Linked DNA regions of Homo sapiens. The protein of the gene in region 1 purifies or fractionates together with the protein of each later gene. This does not show direct contact. Each region holds a gene or a part of one and is shown in the gene's direction. Other genes may lie near its edges.

What was found.
Region 2: the proteins of GSKIP (region 1) and PLS1 purify together in Homo sapiens (affinity purification with mass spectrometry; one large-scale study listed by BioGRID and IntAct). This does not show direct contact.
Region 3: the proteins of GSKIP (region 1) and RP2 purify together in Homo sapiens (affinity purification with mass spectrometry; one large-scale study listed by BioGRID and IntAct). This does not show direct contact.
Region 4: the proteins of GSKIP (region 1) and TPD52L1 purify together in Homo sapiens (affinity purification with mass spectrometry; one large-scale study listed by BioGRID and IntAct). This does not show direct contact.

What each region holds. Positions count from the first base shown.
Region 1 is NC_000014.9:96,383,668-96,387,811, forward strand, and holds the end of GSKIP (GSK3B-interacting protein), read left to right. Parts: intron 1-956; exon of another isoform or gene 957-1,145; intron 1,146-1,855; coding exon 1,856-2,017; 3' UTR 2,018-3,621; downstream 3,622-4,144. UniProt on the Homo sapiens protein: A-kinase anchoring protein for GSK3B and PKA that regulates or facilitates their kinase activity towards their targets.
Region 2 is NC_000003.12:142,686,744-142,690,887, forward strand, and holds part of PLS1 (plastin-1), read left to right. Parts: intron 1-2,874; coding exon 2,875-3,070; intron 3,071-4,144. UniProt on the Homo sapiens protein: Actin-bundling protein. In the inner ear, it is required for stereocilia formation. Mediates liquid packing of actin filaments that is necessary for stereocilia to grow to their proper dimensions.
Region 3 is NC_000023.11:46,846,878-46,851,021, forward strand, and holds part of RP2 (protein XRP2), read left to right. Parts: intron 1-4,144. UniProt on the Homo sapiens protein: Acts as a GTPase-activating protein (GAP) involved in trafficking between the Golgi and the ciliary membrane.
Region 4 is NC_000006.12:125,156,632-125,160,775, forward strand, and holds part of TPD52L1 (tumor protein D53), read left to right. Parts: intron 1-4,144.

The sequences.
Region 1 (4,144 bases):
TGTATACTGTATATTCCTTGATGGAGCAAATTGCAAGGCCAGCATCTGTACTACCCTCAGTTCCCTCACAGCTGCTGCAAAGATAGCTGCTTAGCTTTAAGCATAGTACCTGAATTAACTAATTTTTGTGCACTTCTTTTCACATCCTTAAATTTGTACTAAAAGCTCAGAGTATTTAGAGGTGAATCTTAAATCAGAAGTAGAGATAAATGACAGAATTAGTAAGATAATTCTGTCTTGTGTTGGTTAATTCTAAGTTGACTGTGGAGAGGTAGAAGGAGTTCTGATCAGAGAGTCAGCAGTCTTAAATGTGAATTTAAGTGATCTTGAGTGAGTCCGTCTACCCCTGAGAGAGTTTCTGCTTCTTAATCTATAACTTGGAGATTTAAAAAAAACTTAAAACGATTTGGGGAATGATTATATGACTGTATGATACAGAAAGATCTGAACCATATGTAAAACCTGACATGTAGTAGGTGCTCAAATATTTGTTTGTTTTTCAGTCTGATTCAGTTAACATTTATTGAGCAACTATCCTGTGTCAGCAATTGAAAATCAAACCATGCATAAGACATGATCCCTGTCCACCAGGAAGATCACAGTCTAGCAGAGATAAGAGGAAGAAGGCAAACTGAACTGTACTCCACTGTAGAGAGTGCAGTAATAGAGCATGGATCTGAAGAGGTGTGATTCATTTTCCTTAGGTGTCTGCCTCTGCTTTTCATTTAAAAAAAAAAAAACTCAGCTTCTATTTCTAACACAAACTTTCACCTCCTATGGCTTAAATAGATGTCATAAAAATTTAGGATTTATATAGGGAATGTACACACTTAAGTCAGCAAAAACTAAATTAATTTTGCCCTATATTGTGCTGGTGAACCATGATATACCTTATAATCTTGTCAAAAAGAAAAGTTGTAGCTGTGTTCACAGGAAAAAAAAAAAAAGAAAAACACATGGCCTGTCAGCCTTTTGCCTAAGATCAATTGGAGTATCTTTTCTTATCAGTTTAATATCTGTTATGTCCTCTATCTAAGGACAATATATTAAATGGATTTTTGGAGCAGGGAGATAGAATAGGCTCTTGCTCCATTAACTTCACACATCGACCTGGTATTGCAAATACCTCCAGAAATAGTGTACCCCTACCAAGAAAAAAAAAACACATTAACATGTTCTTTTATCTCACAGAATTGAGCATTTATTCCCTGTCAGGTAAGAAATATATTAGGTGAAAGTGGCCTTTCAGATTACTAATAATAAAGCTAAACAGTTATTAAAACTAATAAACTATTAAACCAATTATTAATAAACAATTATTAAAATTAACAACTAATTATTAAAACTAAATTATTAGGAATAATTTTTAGAATTGTTTATAAAAGAAGTGAAAAATAATGAAAAAAATATGAACTAATGATATATTACCTATTATAGTACTTAATATAGTGGACCCTCAATATATGTGGAATTAAATGGGGTAAATAATAGATGCATGTTTTAGAATATGAAAATGAAATACCATTTTTGTGTAGCTTTTCAAATTCTTTCTCTGCATTTCCTTGAGCTTCTAAGTAAAACCTTTTAAATGTTGAAAATTCTATAGGGAGCATTTTAGTGGTGTTTCTGTGTTATACATTATAAGTTGCTGAAGTATTAAAGGTTGTATTTAAAATGTGTATACTCTGACTTTGAGAAATAGTTTCACTCAGTTACCCATGTATCTGGTGGTCTAGTGGCTAGGAAAAGAAATAATTTATTTTTTTGAAAGGATGATTACTCACATAAACACTTGGATTTTGCTTTCTGTACCAACATGAAAACTAATGAATTCACTGTTGCATTTCTCTTGTAGGTGGTAGGCTATGCTTTTGACCAGGTAGATGATCATTTACAGACTCCCTACCATGAAACAGTCTACTCCTTGTTGGATACACTCAGCCCCGCCTACCGAGAAGCATTTGGAAACGCACTGCTTCAAAGACTGGAAGCTTTGAAAAGAGATGGACAGTCATGACTACACTTTTTCCTTTCAGAGGGGCTGGTGCTGGTACAGAATGTTGATATAAAGCTTAAAATTCTTGCATATGGTCATAGAAAATGCATCTTTGGTTTTGTGTTTTTATCACTTGCTTCCAACTTAGGCTTTTGGCTCAGAAGATTATTGAATAATGATTTGTCTTAGTTTCTGTTTCAGTAAGGGAATTCTGAGGCCGTTGCTATGATACCATCATTAAGACATTCACATGTCTTCATATAATATCTCTTCATTTCAAATCCTAATCACTATTTCATACTATTACAGGGCTTTGATGCTGCCAGCACTGTCTTTTACATAGGAAATTCTAGATTTGCACAGTAATAGAGGAATTAGAAGTACCTAACTATACACTTTGATTCAGCCTGCTAAATCAGGGGTTCAATACTAGCTTGGACAAACTTTGTAGTAATTAATTGCTACCAGCCTTATTGGAAACAAATTATCAACTAGTTTCCCCTGCACAAATTTTGAAATTCACTGCTTCACTTAATCTATTTATATTACTAATAATGGATTAATAAAGATGAATTAATTATATATTACTTAACTAGTATTAAATGAAAAACAGGGACTGAAATAGTTCTGTATTCCGTGTTTGCAACAGCCAGCCAACTAAGCAGAGGATAAACCGTTAGCAAATGAATGTAATAATTACTCATTTCCAAGATATCTAAGCACATAAGCAAATACAGGAACAGACTTCATTCTTTTTCTTAACAAAAAAGCATCTTCAGTGTGTGATTTAAAAGAAAGAAGATTCTGGTTTCCTAGAAAACAATATTTTGGCCTGTGTTGATTCTTATTCTGAATGTGTGTTTACATAATGTACAGTATATATTCAGAAAGTATTTTTGCTTCAACGTTTACTTTCTATGATGTAGTGCTTTGGTATTCCTACAGCACCCCACCTTCCCCAACAGATGTACAGTGTTCTGTCTCCATTCGAAATCTACAATGTAATATGAGTGCATTGTATGGGTTTGAAACCAAAGGATGAATGAAGCATTCAGAGACTTAATATTTGAAAAAGGAATAGTCAGTATTTTATATTTTATTACAGGTACTGATATTTATAAATTTAATAAACTGTACCATGCTGCTGCATGTTTTCAAGTACATGTTGAACAGTAAGGATTGGGGAGTTGTTTTTTAATGGTCACCTAAAGCAGCTGCTATAGAAATGTTGAACTAAAATTTTGCATCTGGTCATACCTTCATGCATTTATCATTTGCAGATATTTTTCCATCATTATTAAAAAACAGGAACTTTTAGGCTCTGAAGATCATGTGGACCAGAGCAAATTAAAGTTCAGTTTGTGTCACAATTCATTGCCAGACTTCATTGGAATGCTTTGTTTGATGATGTATGTTCATTCTCAGCTTTATTTTCAGATGCTTAACTGGGCAACGAAGTCTAACTTCAGGTTGAACTTTCTCATGTTTAATCTCAGGCTAAATGTAAATGATATTTGTAAAGTTTGAATAAAATTCTGTTTACTCATTTTGAGTTAGTATGAAAAAAAGTGATTGTATGTTTAAGAATTGAAATTGTTCATTTTGTGATAAATGATTAATTCCAAGAGCTTGTTTCCATTTTTTAATTCTGCATTGTTACATTTGGATTTGAAATGACTGAAGTGAGCTTTCTCTTGTTACTACTATGAAAGAGCAATGAGGAACAAGAGGAGAGGACATTAATAAAACTACACAGATATACATGAGAATCTAGATATTAAAACCTCCATTTTACCTGGTCTGTTTAAAGAACTTAACCAGCAGATAGGCCAGGTGTCGTGGCTCACACTTGCAATTCCAGTGGTTTGGGAGGCCCAGGCAGGAGGATCACTTGAGGCCAGGAGTGCAAGACAGCCTGCGCAACATAGATCCCATTTCTACAAAAAATTATAAAAGCATGGCCTGGTGACACATGCCTGCAGTCCTAGCTATTAGGAAAGCTGAAGCATGAAGATTGCTTGAGCCCAGGAATTGGAGACTGCAGTGAGCTACAATCGTGCTGCTGCGCTCCAGCCTGGATGACAGAACAAGACCCTGTCTCTTAAAAAAAAAAAAAAAAAATGAAAATTATAAAACTTAACCAGATAA
Region 2 (4,144 bases), on another chromosome or scaffold:
TTTCCATGCCCAAGGCTCCAAGCCTCCATGTCAAGCCAACTGGCTATCATGACGGAAGAAAGGGAACTGCGTAATTGTGACCTGGAGTATTTGTGGAATCAATCCTACATTCATGTTTCCCTGGTGCAAGGCAATTGGAACTCACCAGGGTGCTCTTTTGACTGTCAGCATATGCCAGGAAAGGAAGCAACAACCTGTTGTTAGATTTTTAAGCAATCAATTATCAGTTTTACCAGCTTATATTTAGAAATCTACAAAATAAAAATAGATATTCATGGTGTAGGAAGGACTGATACAGATTCTGACCTACCAAGCATACTTCCTAGGAATCTCATTCTTTTAGCATAAGTTATAAATACCAGGGATGGTTCTATCTAAATCAGGATGTCCAGTCTTTTGGCTTCCCTGGGCCACATTAGAAGAAGAATTGTCTTGGGCCACACATAAAATACACTAACACTAACAATAGCTGATGAGCTAAAAAAAAAAAAAAGGTGCAAAAAAATCTAGTGTTTTAAGAAAGTTTACAAATTTGTGTTGGGCCACATTCAAAGCTGTCCTGGGCCGCATGTGACCCACCGGCCGTGGGTTGGACAAACTTGAATTCTAAACATTAAAATTTGGTCAGATAATAGACTGTATGAAAATATATCACGTACTTAAAGTGCGGCGTCCGTAACATTTGGTTTTAAAGGCAACTTGAGTCATTACTAATTAATTATATCTCACATTATTATAATGACATATTTCAGAAACACAGTATTGCAACGCTCTGTAAAATGTGCAAATCATTTTAAGTAAAAAAATTAGGAACTTAAACTTATGGAAAATTTTGAATATATTCAAGAGAACAGACTTAGTATACTAAACTATCAGGTACTCATCCCTCAGTTTCAACATCTGCCAATTCATGGTCAATCTTATCTCGTTTATTCCCTATTTCTCTCCTCTCCTATATTATTTTGAAGCAAATCCTAGACATTACTTCATGGATAAATATTTCAATATATATTTCTAAAAGACAAAGACACTTTTAAAATAAAACCACAATACCTTATCATACCTTAAAAAAATTACAACAATCTGTAACATCATCAAAATATCTAGTCAATGTTGACATTTCCACTTGCCTCATAAATGCCATTTTTTTCATAGTTTATTTGAATTAGGATCTAAAATAAGGTCCACATGTTGTCTTTATTTGTTTGTTTTTTTTTTTTTTTAGATGGAGTCTTGCTCTGTCGCCCAGGCTGGAGTGCAGTGACACAATCTTGGCTCATGGCAACCTCCGCCTCCTGGGCTCAAGTGATTCTCCTACCTCCACTTCCTGAGTAGCTGGGATTACAGGTGCACACCACCACACCTGGTTAATTTTTGTGTTTTTAGTAGAGACGGGGTTTCACCATGTTGGCTAGGCTGGTATCAAACTCCTGACCTCAAGTGATCCGCCTGCCTCTGCCTCCCAAAGTGCTGGGATTACAGGCATGAGCCACCACGTCCAGCCACATATTGTCATTTTTTGATGTCTACAATGGTAACTTTTCTTTGTTAATTTAATAATCTGTTGCTTTCTCTGATTTCATTTATATGATTAATTATTTTGCAACTCTGGTGCACAGAATTAGGTAGGTTATCTTTGGTCATGATATACTCATATGGGTCTGTGCATACCCATTTTTAAATTTATTTTTGTGTGTGGTTGTTTGTTTTGAAATTGTAACAAGCCTCATGAACTCTCAATCTAACAGGAAAACTAAAACTTTGACGTGACATTTTCTGTACAGTTCTTCCCTATCCCACCTCGGTTTTCGCCCAGTGTGGTAACCACAGTCTTGAATCTTGTGTTCATTGTTGTTCTGCTTTTCTTTTTATGTAGTTTCCCTTCATCCAAATGTATCCCTTACAAAATTAAATTCTTCATTTTACTTTTTAACTTCCTTTAAAGTTTATCATGTTATACTTAAATTTCTAGTACTTCTTTTTGGCCTTGTATCTCTAAGAGTTACCCATATTGGATGTCATTGTGTGAATATACAAATTCATTCATCTACTCTCCTGTTTATAGGTATTTGGGTTGTTTCATTTGTTTCCAGGGTTTTGCAATTGTGAAAGGTGCTTTTCCCTATGATTTTAATTTTTAAAATATGTATTTCAACTTGTTTTTCATCAAGAAGAGCCTTCTGGAAATGTCACTCAGTGTACAGTGGGTATGATAACTATGCCTGTTATCCAGAGGGCACTCTACTAGCTGGTCTTGAATAAGTTATCTATAGTGCAACCAGTAGGAGCTTACTGATACAATATTTGAGGATTTTGCTGAGTATTTTAGCAAAAAGGGTAAAATATAACTCAGTTATCCCAGCAAGGAAATTCAGAGACTTTTTTCCTTTTAACTTAAAAGGCACGGGGGCTGGGCTTAGTGGCTCACGGCTATAATCCCAGCACTTTGGGAGGCCGAGGTGGGCGGATCAGGAGTTCGAAACCAGCCTGGCCAACATGGCAAAACCCTGTCTTTACTAAAAATACAAAAATTAGCTGGGCATAGTGGCATGTGTCTGTAATCCCAGCTACTCAGGGGCTGAGGGAGGAGAATCACTTGAACCTAAGAGGCAGAGGTTGCAGTGAGCCAAGATCACGCCACTGCACTCCAGCCTGGGGAACAGAGCAAGACTCTGTCTCTAAATACATAAATAAATAAATAAATAAATAAATAAAGGAATGGGTAAGTTGACTTGGAATTACTACACATTTTGATCTTATTTTGAGTTATTATTTGATATATTTGTGGAAAAGTAATTGCTTATAAACATGTATACCAATAAAAATTATGCCAATTAAAACTTCAATTGTAACCATTTTTGTTTTATTGTTTAGGAGACAAATGACCTGAAGCGTGCTGGACTCATGCTTCAAGAAGCAGATAAACTGGGCTGCAAACAGTTTGTTACTCCTGCAGATGTGGTTTCAGGCAATCCTAAACTTAATTTAGCTTTTGTAGCTAATTTGTTTAACACATACCCGTGCCTGCACAAGCCGAATAATAATGACATCGATATGAATTTACTGGAAGGTGCGTTCTTTCTGCCTTTAATTGACTTGCTATATTTATCTTCTTATGGTATTGTCTTACTTCACTGTCAGAGATAGGGGATTGTGGTGGGAAATGCAATTTAGTGTGTGTAGGTATGTGTATCTATTGAAAAATTAAAATTATGGAAGGTGGTTGCTGGTTTTGGTTAAAAGAGAATGCTGGGGTAAATCTTTTATTTCTCCATAAGAGGTTAGTGAAAACTATCATACATTTAAAATATTCTCATAAATGATCACATAACAGCTCTACCACCAACATGGACAATGAATTATCTATTAGAATAAAATAATTATTTGTAGGTGTTTTTCTCCTTTGAAAGGTCCAGTTTGACTCTAGTATTGTTCTCTTTTTAAGGTTTTTAGTGTACATGAAAAAAATTACAGTGTTCGTTATTTGTCTTTTGTGTGGTCTATCGTTATCTGTCTCATAATATATAATACTTTCCTGTTTTGCTTCATGAAATGCAGATTTGACCCCTCCTAATGTAGGTACTGTATTTAGTACTTTTCTATACTCTATAAATATATTCATTCTGAATGTTCTTTTTATTAGTACCATTTATTCTTTCCATCTGGGTTGATATTTTACTTTTTGCATTGTTCATGCTGTGTTATTTCTCTCTTAATATGCCCATAGAATGAAACACAAATAAAACTTAATTAGAATAGCAGAACAAAGCTTTGATTTTGTAAAATTTCTACCTAATTTGCCTTCTATAATGATGGGATATTGTAGTTGTAAACACATTAGAACTCAATTTTGAGAACTGGAATTCATGATTTGATGTAAAATCTTTATCCTTCTCCTGTGACAAAATGTCAAGTAATCTTTGAAAGGATTCATTTAGGTTCTATAACATATTATTTTGTATCAATTAGCTATGTTATATTTACTGAACCTCATTGAAGCTTACAGTATATGAATCATAATAACAAAACATTCTCAATACCCAGTTCTTACTCATTTGTTTCCCAGCCTTTCTTTTTTTCCCACTCTCATACATACCAACACCCACATTAGTATCAGAACTTAAAGTAAAAACAGTGGCAGTGG
Region 3 (4,144 bases), on another chromosome or scaffold:
GCCACCACACTCGGCTAATATTTTTATTTTTTGTAGAGACAAGGTCTGGCTGTGTTGCTCAGGCTGGTCTGAAACTCCTGGCTTCAAGCGATCGTCCCACCTTGGCCTCCCAAAGTGCTGGCATTACAGCTGTGAGCTACTGCACCTCGCCTAGCTTTAAAAAAAAATGTTTAGCCATTCTAATAGGTGTGTAGTGATGTTTCATTGTAGTTTAACTTGCATTTCCCAAATGACTTGTATTTACCTAAATGTTGAGCATTTTTCATGTACTTATTTGCCATCCATATATCTTTGGTAAAATGTTTATTCAAATCATTTGCCCATTTTTTTATTGGGTTATTTGTTTTCTTATTATTGAGTTTTTCAGAGCTCTTTATATGTCCTGGATACAAGTCCCCTGTTATATATATGTTTTGCAAATACTTTTTTCCCAGTTAATAACTTGCCTTCTCTTAAGAGTGTCTTTTGAAGAGCAAACATTTTCAATTTGAGTAAAAGTCCAATTTCCACTCACTTTTTCTTTTGTGGATTGTGTTTTTGGTTTCACATCTAGGAATTTTTTTTCTTTTTCTGAGACGGAGTCTTGCTGTGTCGCCAGGTTGGAGTACAGTGGCGCGATCTCGGTTCACTGCACTATATGTATATGTATGTATGTATGTATGTATATACACATACACCATATATATGTGTGTATATATATACATACATATACAAAACAATTGCTTACTAGATGCACAAATCAATGGAATAGAGAGTTCATAAACAGGCATATCTCTCTTTACATATATATATCTATATCGATCACACTATATATATGTGTGTGTGTATATATACACACATATATGTGTGTGTGTATATACACACATATGTGTGTGTGTATATACACACATGTGTGTGTGTACATACACACATGTGTGTGTGTATATATATACACACATATATGTGTATATGTGTATATATGTGTGTATATATGTGTATATATGTGTGTGTATATATATACACGCATATATATGCGTATATACATATATATGGACTCATATATGTGTATATACATATATATATATATATATATATATATATGGACTCACAGTGTGTCCTTGGACAAGTTATATAGTCTCTGTGTGCCTCAATTTTCTCAAGTATAAAACAGAGATAATTATAGTACACAACCCTTATGGGGTTTTTATGGATTGAGTGAATGATTATAGAGCACTTAGTATGGTGCCTGGTACATATATAGTGCTTCTTATACTCCTGAATCTTTTTACTTCTATTCAGACTGGATTTTCATTGGAATTAACAAATCCCATTATTTTATCTCACATTATCATTATGGAAATTTAACTGTGGAGATGAATTTTAATGAAAAATTTGTATTGCCGCTTAGTAAGATAATAAGATGTTCATTTTTGTTTTCTGTTAGGAAAATAATGCTTAACTTGGTTTAATAGCTGTAGGACATTAAATTGATATCAGACGAATTACAACTCTTGAAATTTTTCTTTGATTTTTTTTTTTTTTTTTGAGACAGAATTTGGCTCTTGTCTTCCACGCTGCAGTGCAGTGGTGCGATCTCGGCTCACTGCAACTCTGCCTCCTGGGTTCAAGCGATTCTCCTGCCTCAGCCTCCCAAGTAGCTGGAATTACAGGCGCCCACCACCATGCCCAGCTAAGTTTTGTATTTTTAGTAGAGACGGGGTTTCACCATGTTGGCCAGGCTGGTCTGGAACTCCTGACCTCAGGTGATCCACCCGCCTCGGCCTCCCAATGTGCTGGGATTACAGGCGTGAGCCACCACGCCTGGCCACTTTCCTTGATTTTTTAAAGTATATCCATTACCTTTTAAGGATTGTAGTAAGAAATAGTCTAGGCCAGACACGGTGGCGCATGCCTGTAATTCCAGCACTTTGGGAGGCTGAGGTGGGTGGATCGCTTGAGTCCAGGAGTTCGAGACCAGCCTGGACAACATGGCGAAACCCCATCTCTACAGAAAATACAAAAATTAGTTGTGCATGGTGGTGTGCACTTGTAGTCCCAGCTACTCAGGAGACTGAGGCGGGGAGGATTGCTTGAACGGTGGAGGTCGAGGCTGCAGTGAGCTGTGAGTGTGCCACTGCACTCCAACCTGGGCAACAGAGTGAGACCCTGTGTCAGAAAAAAAAAATACAGTCTAAACTAAACTCACTTCATAAGTGGCTCTTAGGAAAAAATAATTTAAAACATGACCTTTCCATGTTTGTGATTCTAGACACTTTATTTCAGAACTAGTAACCTGCAAAATTACGAAGGATTTCAGTTTCAGTTGTTTATTATTACTTTTTTTTTTTTAAAGTGTCAGGGTCTTGCTTTGTCACCCAGGCTGGAGTGCAGTGGCATGATCATGGCTCACTGCAGCCTTGAACTCCCAGGCACAAGCAGTCCTCCTGCCTCAGCCTTCTGAGTAGCTAGGACTACAGGCGCACACCACCATGCCCAGCTAAGGGTTTTTGTGTTTTTTTACCCCCCTTCCACCAACTCACTTCAAATAATCTGCTAAGTTTTAAAAAACTTTTTTAGAGCTAGGGGAGTGTCACTGTGTCACCCAGGCCAGTCTCAAACTCCTAGTCTCACTAGGCCACTGGCCCACTCTCAAGTAGCTGGGATTACAGATGTGAGCCACTGTGTCTAGCTCCTAATGCTTTTTGTTTTGAAAAACTTTCAGGAATTGTTGAGAAAGTACAGCAACATAAATCTTAAATTTCTCCTTGGAAGGCCGTGCTGACAATCCAACTAATTTTATACTACAGAACTATTTAGCTATAAAATCTTTAGCTATCAGATTAATTTCTCCCTATGAGCTAGGAAAAGTGGAGCGTCCAGAGAAAATACTTAGGGTAGTAAATTACATTTAACTCCTCAGCATTGGCAGCTGTTATGGACTGAATGTTTGTCAAATTCATATGTTGAAGCCCTACCCCCCTACACATGGCTGTATTTGGAGATGGGACCTCTAAGGAAGTAATTAAGGTTAAGTGAGGTCATAAAGGTAGAGTGCTGATCTGATAGGATTAGTGTCCTTATAAGAAGATTCAGTTAGCTTGCACTTGCTCCCTCCCTCTCCTTCACACAGAGGACAGGTCTGGTGATGACATAGCAAGAGGTTGGCTTTTGCAGTCTGAGCAGACTAAAACAGGCTGCCATAACAAAATACCACAGACTGGTGGCTTAAATAACAGAAGTTTATTTCTCACAGCTCTAGAGCCTGGGAAGTCCAAGATCAAGGTGCTAGCAGATTCAGTGTCTGGTGAGGGCTCTCTTCCTGGCTTACAGACAGCTGCCTTCTTGCTGTGTCCTCACATGGCCTTTCCTCTGTGATTCATCCTTCTGCCTTACCTCCTACAGCCATTGAATTACCAGTCTGCTGATTCTGTTTCCTCAGTATTTCTCAAATTCATCCCATCTTCTTCTTCCCTACTAATTACAGCTCTGGTTCCAGCCCTTTCTGTATGACTACAATAGTCTCTCCGATCAATCCATGTTGCATGTGTCCTTATCTCATCAGAGTAATTATCCTGACATGTAAATTTTGCTTATTTAAATCTTTCTGTGGTTCCCTCTTGTCTGTGGATAACTTCTAAGCTTTATATAATACGGTTTCTGCCTACCTCTGTAGCTTCATCTACTAGCATTCTGATAGCATGTGTAACACCAAACTACTTTCAGTTTTCCTCCTACTCCCTGAAGAATTTTACTTTGTTCCGTCTGTTACTTTTGCCTGGCATGGGAAGGGAGGGTCCTTTATTCCTACCCCTTTTACCTAATGAGCTCTAGCTTATCCATTCTCATGTTTTGCAGAACTTCCGCCCCACTTCTCTTCCCCGCCCCAGATGTCCCTTCTCTGTCCCCTCCAAAATATTCTCAGCATCTCTCATTACATGGTCAAGTTGTTTTTAGTTTAGATGAATGTTTACTTTTATGGAAAGAGCTGGTCCTATTCATTTTAGTGCCTAAAACAATGTCTGGCTCATACTGGGTATTCAAATATTGGTAGAGTGACTGAACATCCAGAAAGTTAAGGGGATTTTTTCAAGATCCGGTTGCTTATAGGGGACAAAATTGGGACTGGAAAATGAGTACTTCTTTTATTGCCTCATACTGCAGACCA
Region 4 (4,144 bases), on another chromosome or scaffold:
TGGTGGTGCGTGCCTGTATCCCAGCTATTTGGGAGGTTGAGGTGGGAGGATCACCTGAGCCCAGCAGGTGGAGGCAGCCGTGAGCTGTGATTACATCACTGCACCCCAGCTTGGGCGAGAGGGCAAGACTCTGTCTCAAAAACAGATAAACAAAAAGAGAATAACAACAAAAAAACTTAAGAAAAGTCAAAATTGGATTGAATGTGAAGGAGGGCAGTGTCAAGGATGACCAGCTTCCTACTTGTACAATCAAATGGAGGATAATTACCTCTTAAATCTTTATTTGCCTAGCATTTTAAGATTTTCATTTTCAGACTTTTTGTTATTTATAAAGCAGAGATATTGAGTTATTTAAGAAAAAACTTCTCACAAACTGTTTATAGCATATATTAAAGGGAAATCTTTTTTCCACTTGCACATTTTTTCTGGCTAAATGAATGATTTGCCTCTTAGATTCTAGATAAGACAGTTCTGTGATTTTTAAAGTGTAAGTTTCCACCTTCAGCACAGTTTATTTTAGAATTACCTAGAGTGGAGATGGCTTGTCTTTCTGCCTGCTAATCTAGAGACAGGTAAAGATAAGTGAGATTAAGCAGGCAGTTGCTGATGAGTTGTACCTCATATTGTCCAGGAAGACACCAAGGTGTTATGGACATGATTCGCCCATATAGCTCAGTAAGTGCAGCAACTTACTGCACTAGAAACTTTCCCATAAGTGAAATTATGCAAATATGTTCTTTGACTTTGTAAAATAATAGATTACTTCCAGCAAAACAAGAGGACTCTCAGGGGAGGTGGTAGGACACTAAACAGGAAGTGGGATTATGGGTGGAGCTGTTCACTGAGGAGGGCTGGAGAACAACGTGGAGAGAGATGTCCACAGGAGAATGGCATTCCTATTTGCTTTCCTCTGGTACCAGATAATTTTGCTTTAAGACAACTGATATGTTAGAGAGGGAATTGGGTTGGAAATGTAGCATTTTCCCGAAACATACAGTAGTCCTTTAAAATAAAAACTTCCTGATCCTTTTAAACTACCCTTCAATATTTTATTATTCTAAATGGAAATAACTTTGTTGTTTTCACCTTTCCCAACGTCTTTAATGTTACAAGGAAAACTGTCTCCTTTTAACATTTGCATATATTCAAATTAATAACTATGTTAGTTTCTCAAGGCCACTGTAAAAATTACCACAAACTTCGTGGCCTAAAACAATTAACATGTGCTGTCTCATTGTTTGGCGGTTAGAATTCCAAAGGCACTATCACTAGGCTGAAATCAAGGTGTCGGCAGCGCTGTCCTTCCTCTGGAGGCTCTAAGAAAGAAATCGTCTTTCCCTCTTTCAGTTCCTGGTGGCTGCCGACATTCTTGGGCTGCATCACTCCAATCTCTCTGTCTCCGTGGTTATGCTGCTTTCTGTTCTGTTCGCATCAAACCTCCCTCTGCCTCTCTCTTATAAGGACACTTGTGATTTCATTTAGCACCTACCTAGATAATCCAGGATAATCTCTCTCTCTCTCAAGACCTTTAACTTAATCACACCTGCAAAAGGTAACATTTCCAGGTTCCAGGAATTAGGATATATTTAGGGGCCATCATTCAGTTTACTATAATAACTATTTTTTATATCCACTCAAGAAGAGTCTCAGATGTCCATGAATGAAATAAAGCAATAAATATCAGATTAACCCTACTGTTTGCAAAGTCCTTTAAATGAAAATGTCATTATACTTTACATTATACTTTATACTTACATTATAAGTATACATTCTACATTATACATTATACTTTACATTATACTTTATACCTTACATTATACTTTGCTCACAGAACATTTATATAATTTTATCTTGTTTCAGGAAGTACATAAGGCAGTTTATATGGATACTTGAAATGCAACAAGATAATGTAAATTAAAAATAGATGAAAGAAAATAAATGAGGATAAGAAGAGAAAAGGAAGCAAGGGATGAAGCTCTAGAAAAATGAATATAATCACATTACTTTTATTGATATTGCATGGAAGATAAATTCTTACTTTATAAAGGAAGTATGGCATTTTGTTATAAAATGATAAAAGAACCATTCTTCCTTCTGTCAAACAGCAGCAGGTCCAGTCTCTTATACAGGCATACCTTGGAGATAGTGTGGGTTCAGTTCCAGATCACCCCAAAGAAGTGAATATTGGAATACAGCGAGTCACACACGTTTTTTGGTTTTCTAGTGCATATAAAAGTTATGTTTATACTATACTGTAGTTTGTTAAATGTGCAATAGCATGCTATCTAAGAAAAGGTACATACCTTTATGTAAAAGATACTTTTTGCTAAAAATTGCTAACGATCATTTGTGCCTTCACTGAGTGGTAAGTGTTTTACTGGTGGAGGGTCTTGCCTGGATGTCGATGGCTGCTGACTGATCCGAATGGTGGTTGCCGAAGGCTGAGGTGGCTGTGGCAATTTATTAAAGTAAGACAACGAGGAAGTTTGTCACATAGATTGACTATTCCTTTCAAGAAGATTTATATATAGCCTGTAATGCTGTTTGGTAGCATTTTGTCTGCGATAGAACTTCTTTCAATATTGGAATCAATCCTCTCAAGCCCTGCCACTGCTTTATCGACTAAATTTATATAATTCTAAATCCTTTGTTGTCATTTACACAGTGCTGTGAACATCTTCACTGGGAGTAGATTCCATCTCAAGAAACCACTCTTTGCTCATCCATAAGAAGCAACACCTCATTCATTCAAGTTTTAGCATGAGATTAAAATGTCATAAATTTAGTTACATCTTCAGGCTCCACTTCTGCTTCTTTTGCTGTTTCTACCACATCTGCACTTCATTTCCTCCACTGACATCTTGGACACCTCAAACTCATTCAGGAGGGTTGGAGTCCACATCTTCCAAACTCCTGTTAATGTTGATATTTTGACCACCTCCCATGAATTACGAATGTTCTTAATGACATCTAGAATGGTGAATCCTTTCCAGAATGTTTTCAATTTATTTTGCCTAGTTCCAACAAAAAAATCACTATCTATGGCAGCTGTTTTCTTATGAGATGTATTTCTTAAATAATACGACTTGAAAGTCAAAATTACTCCCTGATCCACAAGCTGAAGAGTGGATGTTGTGTTAGTAGACGTGTGAGCAATGTTAATCTCTTTGTACATCTCCATCAGAACTCTTGGGTGACCACGTATGATATTGTTTGGCTGTGTCCCCACCCAAATCTCATCTTGAATTGTAGCTCCCATAATTCCCACATGTCATGGGAGGGAGCCATTGGGAGGTAATTGAATCATAGGTGCCGGTCTTTCCCATGCTGTTCTCATGATAGCAAGTCTCACGAGACATGATGGTTTTATAAAGGGGAGTTCCCCTGAGTATGTCCTCTTGCCTGCCACCATGTGAGATGTGCCTTCCATCATGATTGTGAGGCCTCCCCAGCCATGCGGAACTGTGAGTCCATTAAACCTCTTTTTCTTTACAAATTTCCTAGTCTCGGGTATGTCTTTATTAGCAGCATAAGAATGGACTAATACAGGTGTGTTATCAACCAGAAGTAATATTCAGAAAGAAATATTTTTTTTCTGAGCAGTAGTTCTTAATAGTGGACTTAAAATATTCAAGAAACCATATTGTAAACAGTTACCCAGGCTTTGTTATTCTATTTATAGAGCACATTTTCTAAATCTATAGATTTAGAATAATTATTTATTTATTTGTATTTGCATTTTCATAGATGAAAGGTCTTGCTCGGTTGCCTAGGCTGAAGTACAGTGGGATCATCATAGCTCACTGACACCTTGAACTCCTGGGCTCAAGCAATCCTCCTGCCTTGGCCTCACAAAGTGTTGGGATTACAGTCATGAGCCACTGCATCTGGTTACAGTTAGAATAATTCATAAGGGCCTTAGAACTTTTTGAATAGTAAGTGAGCATGTAACTTAAAGTCACCAGCTACATTAGCCCCTAACAAGAGAGTCAGCCTGTACTTTGAAGTTTTGAAGCCAAGCATCGACTCCTCCTCTCTAGCTATAAAAGTCCTAGCTGACATCTTCTTCCAGTGTAAGGCTGTTTCATCTATATGAAAATGTGTTGTTTAGTTTAGCCACTTTCATCAACTATCTTAGCCAGAT